4 linked regions of the Homo sapiens genome follow. The protein of the gene in region 1 purifies or fractionates together with the protein of each later gene. This does not show direct contact. Each region holds a gene or a part of one and is shown in the gene's direction. Other genes may lie near its edges.

Region 1 (4,700 bases):
AGGGCATTTTGTTTTTTCTAAGGATATTTGGATTAATCTTCTCACCTGCTTTTCTTTTGCATGGAGCTTTGTTTTATAACTGAGACATGAACAGATGGAAGAGCTGCCTACTTGTATAAAGGATTGTATTCTGAAAACCCCGTTGTATTATAGAGCGGTAGGCCCCAGCCACTGGGCAGGGCATGCTGGTCAAAGGTTCTCCGCCAATTTCACTTCACGTTCATGGTCCACCGTTAGGTCTTTCCTGTTCACTACTCAGTAAACAGCCAGCGATGAAGCAGGCCACAAATGAAATATGAATGCTCATGAGATATGAGTACGTTATCACTACTGAAATAGAAGTGCTCATGAGCTGGTAATCTGGCGTCAGAGCTCGGTGAGAAGGTGGTGTCGAATGAGGTGACCTGTGGCCTTGGGCTCCTTATTACCCTTCTTTATTGCTAAGTCAAACATCTCAAATGCCAAGCTTAGTAGGTGGGACTTTTCTGATACAACTCACTTGACCTCCCAGACCAGATAAATAACAATAGTAGCTACTGTTTGCTTATGGCACTTTGCTAAGTATTTTCCATGCAGTATCTCCTTTGCTTTGTCCAGCCACACTTTTGTCGACCAGGAAGTTGTTGAGAGGGTGAAGTGATCATCATGTAACATAAGAGCAGTATTACCAGGTCATGTGTCTCTGTGTGTACCTTGCACATACCTGTACCTACTGGCCTTTTTTCCTTTACCTGTTTTCGTAGTCCAACAGCATATAACTCCTGAAGGCATGGACACATAGGGATGTGCCTTTCTGTGTCCCTGTGACACTTACATTGATACCACGTATATAGTGGATGCTGAAGAATGTTGGAGATTCTTTCAGTGATTTTTGTGGTTATTGAACTCTTTAGGGTGAAAAGAATCCTGTCTCGCCAGACTAGAATGATCTCACCATGAATTACCAGTTGCTCAATCAATAATCTGTTCGCCTGGCCTTGTGTGAGGCCCATGGTGGGTAAAAAAGAAGTAAAAGACCTGCCCTCTCTTTTGAGGATCCAGTAATCTGCCTTTAGACTTGGGTAAGAAACACTGCAACTCTGGGCCCTGTGGGTTAGAGGACTGCCTCTGACGCCACTCTGGCCATGCCTCCCACCCCACTGTAAGAGTCTGGGACTCAAAGCCATATGCTCCCTCTTCAAGACCATGTTCCAGGTATTCAGGGGCTGGAATTCCCTACTCACGCATCCCCAAGACCACTTCCAGGGCCTGACACTTGGGGATGAGCAGGGCTCCAGGTACATATCTCCAGGCCTGCAGGGTGACAGCTGCTTACAGGATGTAGGGTGGAAGGAGCTTGGAGGAAGCAGCCTGGGGCATGCACGGGGAGTGCTTGAAGCCAGCGCTGGTGTGGGATGGCGCAGGATAGCAGAGAAGGTACTGGGCCTCCACCACATGTCGATACGGAGTGGCCAGGAGCCCAGGATTCTAAATTAAAAGCTGGACCTGCAAGGCAGCATTTGGAAGCCACATTTGTCCAGATACAGGAGATAACACTTTTTCGTTTCAGGGCTTATCAGATCGATTGAAACCTTTAAATGATTAGCCCTGTGGGAGGTGGGCCTCCATCGCGAACTCTCATTCCAGACTCTACAATGTCAGCGGCAGGCTCTGCTGGGCCGTCAGCTTCCCTCACCTCCGCACGGGTCGGTCAGCAGACTGCACACCCGGAAGGCCCAGGCCTTGGTGGAGGGGTTTCTGTGCCTCAAGGCTGTAGGGCAGGGGAGGGGGCCGTGCCTCTCTAAACTGCCAGAGCCTGTTTGCACACCAGCACTTTACCGCGCTTGGCGGCCGGGGAAGTGCTAAGCCTGTCTTCATTAACAAATACCATGTTGCCTTGTTTCCTTACTTAAAACACTTTGGAGTGTTTTGGCTCAAGTTGAGGGGCTCTACATGTGCAAATGCATAATCAGCTGACAGCAGTTTCAAAATTGCAGGTCTCACTATTGATGGAGAAATGGGAGCGTTGTTATTCCTTGTGTGTAATTTTCTCCAAGAAATGGGGGGATTGATTTAATGTCAACACTCAGAGATTTAATGTGGCCCTGTTACTGGAAAAATACACCTTTGCCAAACTCTGCCTCAAAACAATGTCTACATTGTCTTGCTGCACTCCCTACCCCCATTTCCCATTCCTGAGAAAAAACGGGCTTGAAGGAGGGTTCAGCTCAATACAGGGCTGGATCCTGCCCTCTGTCTCCGTTTCCTGAGCACAGATGGCTCATCAGCGGGGCCTGTCTCTGCCTGGAGGGATCCCACCACCTCTGTTTCTGAGGAACTTGGGTGGGAGGGAGTTAGTGGGGAGAACAAGAGTCAACGAACAGGGTGGGGTCAGTTTTAGGCTCTTGTGTTCAACCCAGCAGGGAGGCGGGGGCGGGGGACTCCCTCCAAGCCTTAGGTCACTATGGGGCTTCCTGGCCCAATTTGCCCTCACTGTCGCAAAAAGGCTTTATGGTGTGTGTTTCAAATGAAAAGAAATTCAATTTGATTTTATTTTGAAAATGCAGCGAGGGGCTGGGCATGGTGGCTCACACCTGTAATCCAGCACTTTGGGAGGCCGAGGCAGGCGGATCACAAGGTCAAGAGATGGAGACCATCCTGGCTAACACAGTGAAACCCTGTCTCTACTAAAAATACAAATAATAACAATAATAATAATTAGCCGGGCGTGGTGGCACATGCCTGTAGTCCCAGCTACTTGGGAGGCTAAGGCAGGAGAATTGCTTGAATCGGGGAGGCAGAGGTTGCAGTGAGCCGAGATCGTGCCATTGCACTCCAGCCTGGGCGACAAGAGCGAGACTCTGTCTCAAAAAAAAAAAAAAAAGAAAAAAAAGAAAAAAAGAAAAGAAAAGAAAAAAGAAAATGCAGAGGGGATGTCAGGACTCCCTTTGAAGTGGATAATTGGTACTACTCAGTGGGGTTCATGGAAACCAAGGTGGTTCATCTCTGGGGACTAGCAAGAAAACCAATGTTTATTGGAAAAGTGGCTTTGGCCACATGTTTCTTCTAGCTATTAGTAATTTGTTCCTCAAATCAAGCTAGTAAGTTAAGGATCTGCTTTCAACTTCTTCCCGCTGAACTGCCTGGCAGGCACCCCCTTTTTCTCTGGCAAGTGATGATTTGGATGTGCACACTCACTAGAACCAGCTTCCACGGGTTTTGCTCTGAACCACACCATCACACTCCTCCTGCCAACGCCAACCATAAACGAAATTGGTCAATGGTTTCAAGCCTTCTTCATCACGCGGCTCTTCTGAGGCTGGTTCCACTTTCAGCTGCATGGCCAGGCCCTCACCCGCCTCTCAGAGGTCACGGAGTGTTCCTTCTGATGTTTGTCTCTTTGAGGAAGCAACTTTCAAAGGCCGGGATGCATCTCTAATGACTGTAATTGCATTTCCCATCTTCTCATTAGCACAAACTGCTGTGCACATGGAAGAAATTCAGTCAGAAACCTCAGGTCTGGCCTCAGGCTGCGGGGTAGGCAGGTGATCTGATCAGGGCGAAGACCCAGACCAGCACGTAGGTTGCCCCACATGCCCTTGGCACAGGAAGAAAAGCCTCTGGAACAGGTGCTATGGTTGTCTTTAATTCTTTCTCGGCTTTCCATGGAATGAGGAGGAGGCCCAGATGGTACTTCCAGAGCCGAGGAGCAGAACCCGGCCCGGAGGAGCTAGGCCGGCCGTGGTTTGGTCTTGAAGAGAATGAAAGCCCACCCATGTTCACAGATCGCAGAGCCCCAGGGCGTTCAGGCCACACCTGCAGCTGGTGCCTTGGGTGAGGCTAAGGGGCTCACAAGTGCAGGCACACATGCCCAGACGCCTGCTGGGCTCCAAGAGTGCTGGCTGCTGCCCAGCTACCCAGACCCTCCATGTCCTTCCATGCCCTCAGCCCCAACTCTCTTCCTGGGGGTTGTGGAGGGCAGGGGGTGCACAGTTCACTCCAGAACCTTCCTAAGACCCAGAGCTGTAGTGGGGAGGGTTGTGAACACCAGTTTCTGAGACCTTTTCAGCCAGGCGGTGGTTCTCGCTCCACACCCTTGGGGGCCCCTGAGCAGGGAGGCCTGGGTGTGCTCACCTAACATTACCCTGTGCTTTGCAGACAGACGGTGCCCTATGGACTGTCCAACTACAGAGGAAGCTTCCGGGGCAAGAGGTCTGCGGGGCCACTTCCAGGGAATCTGCAGCTCTCACATCGGCCACACTTGCGCTGCGCTTGTGTGGGGAGATATGACAAGGCCTGCCTGCACTTTTGCACCCAAACTCTGGACGTCAGCAGGTATGACACCTCCTCCAGTTTCACTCATTTGCAGATATGCATCAACCCTCGGCAAGGCCAGGCCAGGGGCTTCTCAAAGGAGGGTGTAGGATAGTTCAGTCACATCCTGACCTACTGTCGTCCTGTGGGCCAGAGAAAGGAGGTGCTGAGCCCAGAAAAGACCCAGGTCCTCAGCATCAGGAGGGCAGGAGATGCAGCGTCCCCACCCCCTTGCTGCCTTTTGGAACAGAAGCTTCACAGTGGCCGTGGCTACATCTGGTTTCCAGACATATGTTTTTCTGGCCTGCACAGCACTTTGTGAAAATCTGAATAAGTTGCCAACACTTAAAAGATTGAAGAATTAACCCCTGCCAAATGCGTATTTTTAGCCTTCTCGAAAATAGCCC
Region 2 (4,700 bases), on another chromosome or scaffold:
CACTGAGGGTGGCGAGTGGGCGGGAGGGTGGTGAGCGGGGGCGGGAGGAGGGTGGTGAGCGGGTGGGAGGGCGAGTGGGCAGCGGGAGGGCGGGAGCACGAGGCGGGAGAAGGAGCTTTTTCGTCTGACAGCTGAGTCTGCCGTTGCTGGTGTTTTCTCTGGAGTTTCTTTGTTGAAGCTGAAGTGTTGGGGAAGACAAAGGCGAATGCTGACCCCACCCCAAACATTCCCAGACGAGCTCCTAGAACCCAGCAGACGGTTTCCAAATCTCATCTTCAAGTTCCCAGATTACCCTCCAGGCCCTAGATTTGAGTTTGCCAATTTGCCAGCCTGGCAAAGCTGTGCCTTCTCTAATGGGAACCAAATCCTGCCCCTTAGACAAGATGGCCCTTGGCTGGGCCTCACAGGGAACAAGGTTGGAGCATTCCAGGAGGTCTTTGTGCAGGGTTGTGGATGGCTGAGGGTGCTGGGGGGTCTGGGCTCAGACAGTGTTGGTCAGAGGGAGTGGCCTGAAGTATGGGTGAGAGGCCCTGGATGTGGCCTCTGATGGCTGCACCCCTGGTGCACACCCCTGCCAGCGTGTGTGACTCCCCCGGTCTTCCCCAGGGCGAGCCTGGAGCTGACGGGGAGGCGGGGAGACCAGGGAGCTCGGGACCATCTGGAGACGAGGTGAGGAGCTTCACAGCCCCCACACATGCCAGGTATGGGCCCAGGGAGGGTCAAGGAGATGGAGCGACCATTCAACCCTTGTTCCCCACAGGGCCAGCCGGGAGAGCCTGGGCCCCCCGGAGAGAAAGGAGAGGCGGGCGACGAGGTGAGTGAGGGCTCCTGACACCTTCCTGGGGAAGTGCATGGCCTCAGCTTCTGATCCTCTTTGCTCGGGGTCTACTCCACGTCCCTGAGACCAAATGCAGTGTGTCCACCAGACTAACGCCGGCGTCTGTTTCTCTTCATCCCAGGGGAACCCAGGACCTGACGGTGCCCCCGGGGAGCGGGTGAGTGGGGCAGGGGCAGCCTGCGCTGTTGGCCTCACCATGTAGCTGTGGACGTGGCCTCTGCGGCCCAGTCTGGCCCTCCCAGCACTGAGAGCCATGGCCTCCTGCCCAAGACAAATGGGTTTCTTCACCCACACGTCCAGGATGCCTCTTCCCACAGTCTCAGAGCGGGTGGGACCTGGGGAACCAGGAGATTCCGGCCTCTGCAACCGTGGGGCATGCGGTGGAGGGGTGGCCCCTCCCAGGGGTCCTGCTGGGGGAGTCAGTCCAGGCCAGGCCTCAAGCCCCACCCCAGCTGGGTGTGAGTTCCAGCAGCTGAGGCTTCTCCCCTCCATGTCTCTCCACTCAGGGTGGCCCTGGAGAGAGAGGACCACGGGGGACCCCAGGCACGCGGGGACCAAGAGGAGACCCTGTGAGTCACAGTTCCTGGAGCTGGGAACCACCCCAGGAAGGGGCAGGCGGAGGCTGGGGCTGGGTCAGGCCTCCAGAGCCACAGGACACATCATGAAGCCCCTGTGGCCCCTCAACGTGGCCAGCCCATCCCCACGCCGTCAGGGAGGGCAGCCCCTGAAGCCGGCGCCCAGCCATGTGCCTGATGCTGGGACCTGTTTCATGTGAAGGCGTTGCCCGTGGACCCGGTGCCCACTTTCCCACCAGGCGGCTTCCACGTTTCTGCATCCGAGCTTGGGTTCTTCTTTGGAATAATTTTCCTTAGTTAAAATTCCCAGCGTGAGGAAGTTGGGTCAGTACCCCAGACGGGAAGCTAGGCCTGCAGGGCGCCTGCCTGGGAAGGCTTGACATGGAAAACTCACCCCAGAGCCGAGATGCCGGCGGCCTCAGAGGCCACCCCCCACCTTCAGCTCCGTGGACCGTGGGCCTCGCTAGGCCACCCCACAGCCCAGCCTCAGGGTGCAGAAGCACAGGGCCCTTCTCTGTCCCTGTGACTTGCTGGGAAATCTGTGCTGGATGTGGGGCGGGGCAGCTGGCAGACTCCGGGCGTCTCAGTCCCATCCGGCTCAGGGAGAGCCAGGGCCTGGCGGGCAGAGTGAAGGGGAGAGAATGCCCTAGTGTGCCCAGCCGAGCTGCCAGGCCTCAGAGGCAGCGCCCCCGGGTGCCCCCTTGTCCGAGAATCAAGACATGCGACTGTCGTGTGCTGTGACAGACAGGCGGGGCTCCAGCAGGGCCAGAGAGCTGAGCCGGGGCCAGAGTCGCCGCCACCGAGGGATTTGGCTCCCCAGTGGGGGGTGGGGGATTTCTGACCTCCTCCCTGGGAGCTCCCCAGAAGCGCACAGCCCCCGTGGAGGGGTCGGGGGGACGTCAAAGCAGGGATCGTGTGACTTAGTGACTCAGACTGCCTTCTAGGCCCACTCCTCTGAGATCAGGATATGAGACTGACAGCCAGGCAGAGCCCAGAGGAAGGGCCAGCCACGCAGCTCCAGCTTCCCGGCGGGCCACAAGTCCATGGCTACAAACACTTGCCGGGTCCACGGAGCTTGCTGGAGAAGCAGGGATGCACGCAGGGACGCCTCTGGGGCCCCAGGAGGAGCTGCCGGCCTCCTGAATGAAGATAGCCATAGCCAGCCACGCCGATGGCCACGCACGTGGGCCGAGGAAACGCTTGGCGAGGCCAGGAAGGGGCTGTGCGGGGAGGGAAGGCCGGAACAGCCCAGTGACCACCTGGACAGCATGCTGTGGCTCCCAGCGTGCCCGGGCAGCCATCCTCCCCAAGGATGGCCCAGCTCCACACTCACGGCTCGTTTCTCTTCAGGGTGAAGCTGGCCCGCAGGGTGATCAGGGAAGAGAAGGCCCCGTTGGTGTCCCTGGAGACCCGGTAGGAAGCGCTGTGGGGTTGGGGGGCGTTGGCCAATTTGGGTTTTGGGGGTAGAAGTGCTCCAGCAGCTCACGCACTGGGGGTCTGTTCATTTCCGTTTGAGGGCCTCTGTGTTTCCGTAGATCTCGGGGGTGTCCCTGCGTGGGAGCCGGCTGCAGGGGGTGAGGCGCGGCCTGGGCCGGGCTGGTGTGGATTGTTGAGAGCAGGCCCAGCGCCCGGGGGCCTGACGCTGAGACGCTCAGCCCAGGTGGAGAAGCGCTGTCTGGGGGCCCATCCGGGGCAAGGGTGCCTCACAGTGAGGAAGAGGTGTTGGAGCCCCTGGGAGACACTGGGAGCTTGGTCAGCATCTGTTTTTCTGGGTCAGGAGCCAGGCATGACTGTGGCTGGAGGTCAACTGGGGAGTGTGAGGCTATGGAGGTTTCCAGAATCCCAGGGTGTCAGGATGAAAATGCACTTTCATCTCATTCTAAATTCCCTTCTCCGAGCCTCTGGAATCGCTGTGCACGCCGCACGGCTTTCTGTCTCTTCCCCCATTCTGATGACTGCCATGATGGTGGCTCCAGTGTGGTGTTGCCCGCAGGCTGGGCTGGGCCGTTGCATCCTCCCGGAGCTCACCTGCCCCACGGGGACAGGAAGGCCTCCACACGGTCACGCCCGGAGACAGCAAGTCTGTGCTCCCGAGCTTGTCTGCTTCTGTGGACAAATCGACCTTACGGCTCCATGTGCGCAGCTGCCCACACACCGAGCACAAGGCCAGACCCTGGGCACGGCAGCTGTCTCAGACGTCCAGCAAGATGGGGCCTCAGACCCAGGGAGATGGGAGAGGCCGTCCCAGTGCAAGTCACATTTGTATTTCTGTGCACGAGGTGAAATCGTGCTTTTGTGGTGCCAACGGGTGTTACACAGCTGTTAAAAATACCTGTGTCATAGATGAGGACCAGGGCAGGGCTTGGCAGGCGGGGTCTGGGCCGTTCGTCCACCTGGTCCTGCGTGCCGCTCACGGCAGGGGCAGAAAGGGCTCCCGACACCTTCCTGGGGAAGTGCACGGCCTCAGTCTCTGATCCTCTTTGCTCTTTGAGCTCCCGGGGCTCCAGCCCTGAGGATGATCTGACCTCCCATGTGGTCACCCAGGACAGGGCCAGGTGCAGGGCACAGTGCGTGGAAGAGGCCATGCAGCCAGTGGCAGATTGTGGGGAGGGGACGGCCCAGGGCCACGTTCCAGGCTTGGGAGGCTGCTCCAGACCTTGGTAGCTGAAAGTCTCAGTGGGAATGAGCGTTCAGAGGCCAGGACTTGCTCGGAGAATTCTAACCACACCCTGCCTGTTTTATATGTTCAGTTTTCAAAGTAATCAATAGCCACTATAAGAAAAAAACAAAGCCACTTTCAAAGGGTTGTGGTAAGAGGCAGTCCTGTGAGCAGGCCGGCTGCAGGGCCTCCAGGGCTGTGGGGCAGGCTGCACAGGGGCTGGTGGGTCCCATGCCTGGGGGTCTGGGAATAGTCTCTAGGCTGCTGTCCTGGAGGAGGTTTCCCCCAACGCCTGAGACCAGGGCACCATGTGACCCATGACTCACAGTTGCCTGGCTGAGGCAGGCACTTGTTCACCTGGAGCCTCCCTGGGGCCTTTCGGGGCCCGGGGGTGTGGATAGGTGGCTTTGGAGCCACATTTGTCCATCGGGACGTTGGGCTCCCAGCTGGCCTTCCGGGCTTTCCCTGCTCCCAGAACCTCCCTGCTCAGCCCTTGCCAGCCTTACCCCTCCCCTCCACCCTGCCCAGCATGGGGCTCTCCCTGTGTGGATGCCAGAAGCAGTTGGGCCCTCAGGGCTGGTCCCAGGAGGTGCCCCCAGTGAGGTGCTCTGCAGAAACTGCCCAGTCT
Region 3 (4,700 bases), on another chromosome or scaffold:
TCCCACCGTCTGCCTTCTGCAAGCAAGAAAGAGAACCAAGAAAGCCAGGGGTGTAGTTCCAAGGCCTGAGAACCAGAGAGCCGAGGGCAGATCGATGTTCTGTGTAAGCAGTTGACCTTCCTCCATCTTTGTGTTCTAGTCAAGCCTGTAAGGGACTGGATGATACATCCACGTTGGGGAGGGCCATGTGTTCTACGCAGTCTACACATTCAAATTATCCTCTCTTCCGGAAACACCTTCACAGATACCCCCGGACATAATGTTCAACCAGATACCTGGGCATCCTGTGGCCTAAGTTGACACATAAAATGAACCATCACAGGGGACAGGTTGTTTGGAGTAAGATGATTCATTCTTCCTATCTGGAAAGAGCTTTATCTTCTTTGTTACCGTCTCCTGCTCTGGTCACCAGACAGAACAGGGTGCTGCTGCTTCTGCTTAGAGGTGTGCGTGATGCCCTCTTCTTGCCATCACAAGCGCCTACCCCTCCTACACTCTCTCTGTCCCGCCCCCCTCCATCATACCAGAACTAGACCATAGAGGAAAAGATCATGCACTTGGTGTTTAGGGAGATTCCGTTTATTCTTCCTACTCGGGGGATGCAGTCACTGTGCCCGTGGGTCCTGTCACTGGGGCAGATTCAGATGGGGTTACCCTCAGGCTCTTCTGCACTTGGTGCCCTATGGGGGTTGGGGGCTGCTGAACGGGCACAAGCGTCGATGATACCTAGTAGGAAAGGAAAGTCTCCCAAAGAGAGGCCTCAGCAAAGTGCTGTTAGAGTTAAAGGCAAAAATGACTCGAGCTAGGGCTTGAGCTATGACTGAGATTGAATGTGGAGGCCTTGCAGGAATGGTAAAGAGTCTTCCAGGAGAGATACAAAAGGCAAAGGGAGACCATTGGTAGGCTGGAAAGAAACCCAAATTGGACTTTGTATTCTGAACCGAGAGGCGCTGTCATTAGCCATCTTGCACTTGAGACAAGATGCCATGAACTTTGCCTGGCTTTTTCCTGGTGAGGCCCTTTCCTCTATGTAACTTGCCCACCTCCCAGACCCTGTGCTAGAGTTCTTTCTCTGATGAAAGTTTTTCGTAACCCCCAGACACTACAGCAGCAGGATAGCTCCCTTGGCTTCACTCCCTGACAGTTGTCTCTGTAGATCCTGCGTGAGTCATTCCATGAAAGTGCTACAGAAATAGTCTTAGTTTCAAAATCTTTAAACTCAGTTGTTTTTGAAATATAACACATTGCATTTGTGATGTGTGTTTGTGACCAAAGTTCAGAGAAAACTATAAACTAGAAAGAACTCAGGTAGGGGGGAATATAAAATGTATAGTTACTCTGGAAAACAGTTTGACGCTTTCTTAAAAAACTAAGTATGCATCTACTGTAAGACTCAGTAATTGTATTCTTGGGCATTTCTCCCAGAGAAATGAAAATTTATGTTCACATGAAAACCTGTGTGAATGTTCATAGCAGCTTTACTTGTAGAGGTCAAAAATGAGAAGCAACCAGAATGTCCTATCATAGGTGAATGATTAACGGCAGTGCATACATATATCCCCGGGAATTCTACACAGCAATAGATTAGGAAGGAACTTTGATACACACTGCAGCTTGGATAGATTTTGAGGGAAATATGCTCCATGAAAAAATTCAGTCCTAAGAGGCCGTGTTCCATTTGTGTATCATCCTTGAAATGACACAATTATAGACATGGAGAATTGGTTAGTGGTTGCCAGGGGTCAGCAGGTGGGAGGGAGCGAGGAGAGGCTGTAGAAGGGCCCTGTGAGGGATCCTGGTGGAGATGGAAATGCTCTATCACTTTTATCAATGGAATGTCCGTTTCAGTGGAAATAGTCACTGATCATATCAATGTCAATGTCCTGATTGTGGCACAATCTAGTTTTGCAAATTTTAGCATTGGGGGAATCTGGGTAAAAGATACATAAGGTCCCTATACTACTTTGTACAATTGAATTTGAATGTACAAATATCTCAAAAAATTTAATCAGGAAGAAAAAGATCTCAGAGTCCTTCATTTTGAAGCTACTACATTGTCTGACACACTGATACCCCTGGCTGCTGCACGCTAGAATCCTACCACCCCACCCAGCCTCACCCAGAAGCGCACATAGGTTGCATGTGCCTGGCTCGTCTCACCCTCCTAGCAGTGCTTCGTGGGCATGTGTTGGCCCCTGCTGTTGGTGGGGGGGCAGAGCTGAGGGGTGTCCAGCACAGCCCCCCTCTAGTGTAGTGGCGATTGGGGGTGGGGTATGTCGCCTGTCTTAAGTACAGGGTTAGTGACGGTCAGGGGGGTTCTTGGATCCTGTAGTGAACCACTGTACACTGGGACTCTGTGAATGAGTTTGGAAGACTTTCCATACTTACTTGACCACCATAGATAATGATGTTCTGGTCAGTTACATGTGAGTGGTCAGTCCAGGAAAGGGGTTCAGAGCAGAATTGAGGAATGTGACAGTTGCTTTGGAAAAGGTGCTGTGTAAGCTGAACCGCATAGGAGGAAGAAGAATGAGTGGAGAGTTACCCAGACAGGGTGGCATGGGCAGTTAGAAGAGCCCAGGAGATGTTCAGGAAGTGGCAAGCTGACCATTGTGGAAGTTAAGGAGAAAAGGGCCTTGCCTTCTGCCAACCAAGGGAAAGTTACCCAGTAAAATATGGGGTAATATTTGGGGGCAGAGGAGTCTTCACGAAACTCCTCAAATCACACTTTATCAAACTAACAGATTCTGCGTTTGGCCCTGCTTATGACAAGTATTCAACAAAATACTGGCCTTCTGAGAATCCATTTATGTTTTTCTTACTGTATTTGTTTTGTTTATTTTGGTGCCAAAGCAGACGCAGTAAGGGTAGATAATTGGATAGATAATTAAATGTCTTTAATACTAAAACATTGCTTAAATTGGCCAGCAAAAAATGTGCCTGCACATGTAAATTCAGTCTCTTTTATCATGTCATTGCTTTCTGTAGGGCTGGCAAAACGAGTCGGTGCCCGTCTGCTCCTGGCCTCCACATCGGAGGTGTATGGAGGTGAGTAGGAGGCTCTCTCAGGAGATGTTCACTCCAGCCCTTGGACTGTTTTCATCCTGTCTCAGAAGAGTCCAGTGTTCTTTTCTGAGGAGGCCCAGCCTGCCCATGCTCCTCTTGTGCACAGGAGGCTACCTGTCGGCCTCCCGGGTCGCCAAGCTCCTCTTCCTTGTGGGACAGCCTCTCTTGTTTGATCACACATCACTGGAGGTCTGCACCCTGTCACCTGGCCAGTAAAGACCCACCATTTATGATTCCACAGAAGTGTTTCTGCCATTCTGCTCTGAAAACACCCCACAAATCACACTATCTTTTTACCTGTTTGTCTAGCACATGTCATTCTTCTATGTGAGTCATGCATGCTGCATGCCTGACCTCCCAAGAGCTCATGGGCTGGCCTTTAAAGCTTGCTGGGAGAAGAGACATGCGCTGACTGCCTCCCCTGTTGTATAACGAGTTCTGGAAGAACCTTAAGCAGGTAGTGTCAGAACACCCACGAGCTTGTTTTACCAAGCTACAGCCTTCCTCTCCTTCACTGCCTGAGAAGGAGTTGAGGAGTGGGGACCAGGAGCTGTGTTTTCAATGTGTGTTGATTTCTCTTCAGCCCCAAACCAGCTGGGTGTGCAAGGTTCAGGAGAACTGCTTAGCTGATACAGCGGAAGCCAGGTTTTAGTATGATGTAATTTTTCTATTTTACATTATTATTGTGGACAAGAGAAGGAAGTAAGAGGGTAAAATCAGAAGAGACTTTTTTTTAATTAAGGAAACCAAATGAAAAAAATCATAGCAACAGAGAAATTCTTCTAAATGCAGTGATATTCTTTGTAATCTCTATGAAAAGGTAGTTCATTGTCTACTTTTTTGAAGTCCTGGGCAGTTATTAATAAAAGAGCAGAGTGTGTCCCTCCCTACCTATGGGGTATGGTATCTGTCCAGAGGGGAACAGTGACATCTTTCCCACAGCCATCCTGCTTCCCCTACTCATCTCATTTATTATCTGCATGTCTGACAGGAGCCTGTGTTCCTTAGGCTTCCTAAATAATTGGAGAGTGTAATTTATGGAAGTCACCAGGTGCTCTCCTCTGACCTTGAATAACCAAAGTAAACTTTTGTGGAGTATTTGCTTAGTGTCTTAGCCTCACAGAATGCTGGAAAGGGGAGATGATTGGAAATTATTTTTGACTCTAGGTCTTTACTTTTGTATTAACAATGTAAGCTGTCCCTGTTTTATTCCACGGTGATTTTGTGAGGGGACTTATTTAGAAGCTTGGCATCCTGGGCATTTCAGTCCAGACGGTGCCAGTCCAGGGACAGATGGGCGTACCCAGCCTTTTCTTTCTTGTCCTTTGTCAAATTTATGACCATCTTTTTTGGAGGGTAGCTTGCCCAGCTCTTGTTAAAGATCCCCAGAAAAAGGTCTGGGATCAATCATCTGGTACATTCTGTGAATTTAAGTCAATGGTTCCTTTCTCTCAGGAAGTATTTTCCTTAGAACTTTTCTCTCACTGAGTAGTGAGAAGTTTGCTCTTTGAAAGGGAATTTTAAACCACAGCAGCAGATACATAGACCTTTCTTTGCAGCACACTTCTGCATTGCTGCGGAGGCTGTGCTGACCCAGAGGGATCGGCTGAGCAGACAAGTGGCAGGATACCTGT
Region 4 (4,700 bases), on another chromosome or scaffold:
GAAACCCCATCTTTACTAAAAATACAAAAAAAATTAGCCAGGTGTGGTGGTGTGCACCTGTAATCCCAGCGACTCTGGAGGCTGAGGCAGGAGAATTGCAAAGAAAGATGCTAATATTTCTATTGCTATGTTTTTAAAGGAACTGAAATAGAATTTTTAAATACTTTTGTACTATTTCAAAGCTATTTATGGTCAGGTTTCTAAGAATAAATGTAATATCTGTCAAACACTGAGTCATTTGAAGATTTGTGGTTTTTTTATTTTGAGGATACAGTACATAGAACATTTTAAGATAGCTAGTAATTATTATTTGCTAGTGAAATTTGCATTTACAGCCTCTTTTGCTTTCTTCCTCTATCTCCTCATGAAGATGGGGAGAATAGATTAGAGCAAATGTTTGTCTGGTGATTTTATTACTTTCTAAATCGAGGCCACTGTTGGAAATAAATTTAAATAGAGGTCTCTTCTCTTCTTGAGCTTCTGTTTCCAGTGCTGCTGCTGGAAACAGAATGGTTTCCACAAGAAACCATTTTTTGTTTTTGTTTCCACAAGAAACCATTTTTTAATATGCCGTTGCATTTTATATTCATAGTATTTATAGTTAAATGTTATTAGAAGTAATACTGTGCATGGATTTGAATATAGCAAAGGCTGATGATGAAACATAGTTAACTGATAGTGAATATTAGTCCCACTACTCAGTACTAATGTTTTTAGTAAGTTCCCCCTCCATAAAGATACCCATCTGTTGAAATCGAATAAAGGTAATATTCTTTAAAATATCTTCTCCACAGCACCTGGGAAAGTGGCAGACAAAGTTATAATTGAAAACACTAGAGATTCAACCTTCGTTTTTATGGAAGGCTCTGAAGATGCTTATGTTGGATATATGACAATAAGGGTAAGACATGTTAAGATTTAAAATACACATTGAAATCATAAAGGCAGTAATTGTTTATTTCAAACAAAATTTTTACTTTTCAGTTTAACCCTGATGACAAATCTGCACAACACCACAATGCACACCACTGCTTAGAGATTACAGTAAATTGTAGCCCTATTATTGATCACTGTATCATCCGAAGTACATGTACAGGTTAGTGTTTTCTTTATATTTTACAATAAAATTTTGAGTCACTGTATGTTGCCCAGTAGGTTTTTACATAAATAAATAATTTTTCTACAGTTGGTTCTGCAGTATGTGTTAGTGGTCAAGGAGCATGTCCCACCATCAAGCACTGTAACATCAGTGACTGTGAAAATGTTGGACTATATATAACAGATCATGCACAGGTATTTTTTAATTTTGTGTGGTTTTTTTCTTTTTAGAAAATGTTTAAAAGCTCTACTGATGTTTGTTTCTGATAACTTGTTGTAGGGAATATATGAGGATAATGAAATTTCCAATAATGCGTTAGCTGGGATTTGGGTTAAAAATCATGGAAACCCAATTATTAGACGGAATCATATTCATCATGGACGTGATGTTGGTGTGTTCACATTTGATCATGGCATGGTAAGAACACTTATTTTTAATAGAAAAACGGACTTCTGTATCAGTTAAATTCCAAGTATGTTTCAGCATTATTTTCTCATCACCAAATTATCTGAATTGAAGAGTATAGGTTTAAAAGCAATTTCAGCATTATTTTTTAAAATTAATATGAAATATTTATTCTGTAAATTTATGCATCAGACATATCCATGTAGAGGTGATAGCGTTCTTAGGCAATATATGTGATCTTTGAGGGGAGTAAGGTATAACTCGTTAATTAAGTCTCAAATGTGTGTTCATAAAAGCCACCCAAAAGCTTTCTGTTTTAAAGAAAATTCCTGTATCCTCCAGTTTAATAAATCAAAATTTCCAAGGATGGGGCTTAGAATATGTATTTTTAATAAACAACATAAGTGAATCTAACACAGTTTGTAGAGTATACTTTGAGAAATAATGGTTTCATTGTTATTTTGCTTTTCATTTAATTCCTCTTGAAAATTTTAAACTGGCAGAACTTTAATAGGAGATACATTGATAAAATACCAATTTTAAAACCATTATGCAGCAGTTAATATTAGGCATCCTTATGGAATATACTGTGTTTTAAGTATTACCTTATAGTTTTACATAATTTTCTAGAGACATGACTTTTTGAGCTCTGAGATCACCATTTCAAAATAATGTTTTGAATGTCTTTTCAGATTTTTTTTCATTTAATGTCAAATTTTCCTTGAGGTAATTTTCAAGTCCTAATACAGCATTGGTAAAATTTTTTGTTGCGGAGTCCAAGATGGGAGAGAGGGTCACCACATTGTAGCAAATAGGATTATGGTGAGGTTTTGTTGCCTATTATACAATATTAAGCAATCCTGGGAATGTTGGATTCATCTATACAAAGAAATTTTTTTATTTTCATTTTTCTTTTTTTTTTTTTTTTTTTTTCTTTTTGAGACCGAGTTTCACCCTTGTTGCCCAGGCTAGAGTGCAATGGCAATGGTGTGATCTTGGCTCACTGCAACCTCCACCTCCTGGTTCAAGCGATTCTCATGTCTCAGCCTTCCAAGTAGCTGGGATTACAGGCATGCACCACCACGCCTGCCTAATTTTGTATTTTTAGTAGAAACAGGGTTTCACCATGTTGGTCAGGCTGGGCTTGAACTCCTGGCCTCAAGTGATTCACCTGCCTCGGCCTCCCAAAGTCCTGGGATTACAGGCATGAGCCACTGCGCCTGGCCAAGGCAGAGCTCTTTTTTTAAACTAAACTAGACCATGGCCGGGTGCAGTGGCTCACACCTGTAATCCCAGCACTTTGGGAGGCCAAGGCAGTTGGATCGCTTGGGCTCAGGAGTTCAAAACCAGCCTGGACAACATGGTGAAACTCTGTCTCTACAAAAAATACAAAAATTAGCTGGGCATGGTGGCTCACACCTGTAGTCCCAGCTACTTGGGGGCTGAGACAGGAGGATCACTTGAGCCCAGGAGACGGAGGTTGCAGTGAGCCAAGATGTAAGATGTGTGCCTTTGCATGGGATTTCAGGCGTGAGCCACCACACCTGGCCAAGTTCATCATTTTTGAAAGACCTCTGGTGATGGGATGGTCCCTTATTAAAGTTCACCATAGTAAGTTACTCCTCATCACACACACACTCCTTATACCATTTTAAAGAATAGATTTGGGCTTGTAAATATCACAGCATTTTTAAAAATAAGTCTAGACAATGCTATAGATAGATATTTCCATTAAGGATTAATGAGATTTATACATTTTAAGATTTATAAAGTATTTCAATCTATCTCCACCCCATCATTTTTATTTTTATTTTGCAAAGGTTTAAAATATTTGCATTCCTACAGTTATTGGTCTATATTTATTCTTTATTTATTTATCATTAGTTCTTTTATCATCGTTTCTCCATTCTTGAATTTAAATTTTGATTCATTCTTGGTATGGCTAGGTTTTGTCATCCAGCCATTTTTTGTTTGTTTTTTTTAAAGAACGCCTTATGGATATTGTAGCTTGAATTCTTGCCATGCGAGAATCCCTATCCATTGCCTTTTAACTTAGCTGAGTTTCTTTCTTTCCCTCACGATTCTGTAGACATTTTTCTATTGTAGCATTGAGCATGGCTGAGAACTCTGAGATCACATTGGGTTTTTTTCTTTCTTCTTTGCTTGAAAGATTGCTCTTCTACCTCAGTATCCATATTTTGGCTTTTGCTGATGTATTGTTTTACTATTTTTCTGTTCCATATGTTCCTTTCTTTAGAAACTTAGCTATCTTTCTGGTTATTTATATTGCTATGTTCTGTTCTGTTTAGTGTTGTGTGAGTTCCTCAAATCTGTGTTCCTTACCATGTCTCCGTGGTTTTGTTTTTCTGCTGCTATTTTGCTTCCAGTGTGGGTGTTGCCTTTAATTTTTACATTTTTTTAATGAAATATTTCTAACGTACACTGAAGTAGAGAGAATAGTGTAATGACTCTCCAGGTACCTATTGTCTGCCTTCAACAACTATCATTTCATGGCCAATTTTGTTTAATGTATACCTCATACGTTTTACTACCTTTTTTACACTCTGGATTATTTTGAAGTAAATACCAGACTTCATCATCTCTTGTAAATATTTTACCATGTGTCTTTAAAAGATGGGTGTTTTTTTTTTCTTTCACATAACCACAGTGCTAATCCACTCCTCAATAATTAGGAATAATTCCTTAATATCATCAAATTTTCTCTTAATGTTCACAGTTCTCCAATTGTCTTTTGTTTGTTTAATACTCAGTTCAGTGCAGAGTTGTTACTTTTGTAAAATAAGATTAAAATGTCATAGCAGGCCAGGTGTGGTGGCTCATGCCTATAATCCTAGCACTTTGGGAGGCCGAGCAGGCAGATCACCTGAGGTCAGGAATTCGAGAACAGCCTGGCCAACATGGTGAAACCCTGTCTCTACTAGAAATACATAAATTAGCCGGGTGTGTTGGTGCACGCCTCAAGTCCCAGCTACTCGAGAGGCTAAGGCAAGAGAATCGCTTGAATCCAGGAGGCAGAGGTTGCAGTGAGCCGAGATCGCGCCACTGCACTCCAGCCTGGGCGACAGAGCAAGACTCTGTCTCAAAAAATAAATAAATAAATAAATAAAATGTCATAGCAGTGCCAAATAACTATAAAATTTTTTGAGGCCGGGTGCAGTGGGTCACGCCTGTAATC

Evidence for each region. The genes of interacting proteins can lie anywhere in the genome.
Region 2: the proteins of EDN3 (region 1) and COL6A1 purify together in Homo sapiens (affinity purification with mass spectrometry; one large-scale study listed by BioGRID and IntAct). This does not show direct contact.
Region 3: the proteins of EDN3 (region 1) and UXS1 purify together in Homo sapiens (affinity purification with mass spectrometry; one large-scale study listed by BioGRID and IntAct). This does not show direct contact.
Region 4: the proteins of EDN3 (region 1) and FBXO11 purify together in Homo sapiens (co-immunoprecipitation; 2 studies listed by BioGRID and IntAct, with this or other methods). This does not show direct contact.

Annotation. Positions count from the first base shown.
Region 1 is NC_000020.11:59,316,880-59,321,579, forward strand, and holds part of EDN3 (endothelin-3 isoform 1 preproprotein), read left to right. Parts: intron 1-4,137; coding exon 4,138-4,314; intron 4,315-4,700. UniProt on the Homo sapiens protein: Endothelins are endothelium-derived vasoconstrictor peptides.
Region 2 is NC_000021.9:45,991,404-45,996,103, forward strand, and holds part of COL6A1 (collagen alpha-1(VI) chain precursor), read left to right. Parts: intron 1-606; coding exon 607-669; intron 670-760; coding exon 761-814; intron 815-959; coding exon 960-995; intron 996-1,344; coding exon 1,345-1,407; intron 1,408-2,763; coding exon 2,764-2,826; intron 2,827-4,700. UniProt on the Homo sapiens protein: Collagen VI acts as a cell-binding protein.
Region 3 is NC_000002.12:106,123,968-106,128,667, reverse strand, and holds part of UXS1 (UDP-glucuronic acid decarboxylase 1), read left to right. Parts: intron 1-2,988; coding exon 2,989-3,048; intron 3,049-4,700. UniProt on the Homo sapiens protein: Catalyzes the NAD-dependent decarboxylation of UDP-glucuronic acid to UDP-xylose. Necessary for the biosynthesis of the core tetrasaccharide in glycosaminoglycan biosynthesis.
Region 4 is NC_000002.12:47,829,165-47,833,864, reverse strand, and holds part of FBXO11 (F-box only protein 11), read left to right. Parts: intron 1-794; coding exon 795-901; intron 902-984; coding exon 985-1,096; intron 1,097-1,186; coding exon 1,187-1,293; intron 1,294-1,378; coding exon 1,379-1,516; intron 1,517-4,700. UniProt on the Homo sapiens protein: Substrate recognition component of a SCF (SKP1-CUL1-F-box protein) E3 ubiquitin-protein ligase complex which mediates the ubiquitination and subsequent proteasomal degradation of target proteins, such as DTL/CDT2, BCL6, SNAI1 and PRDM1/BLIMP1.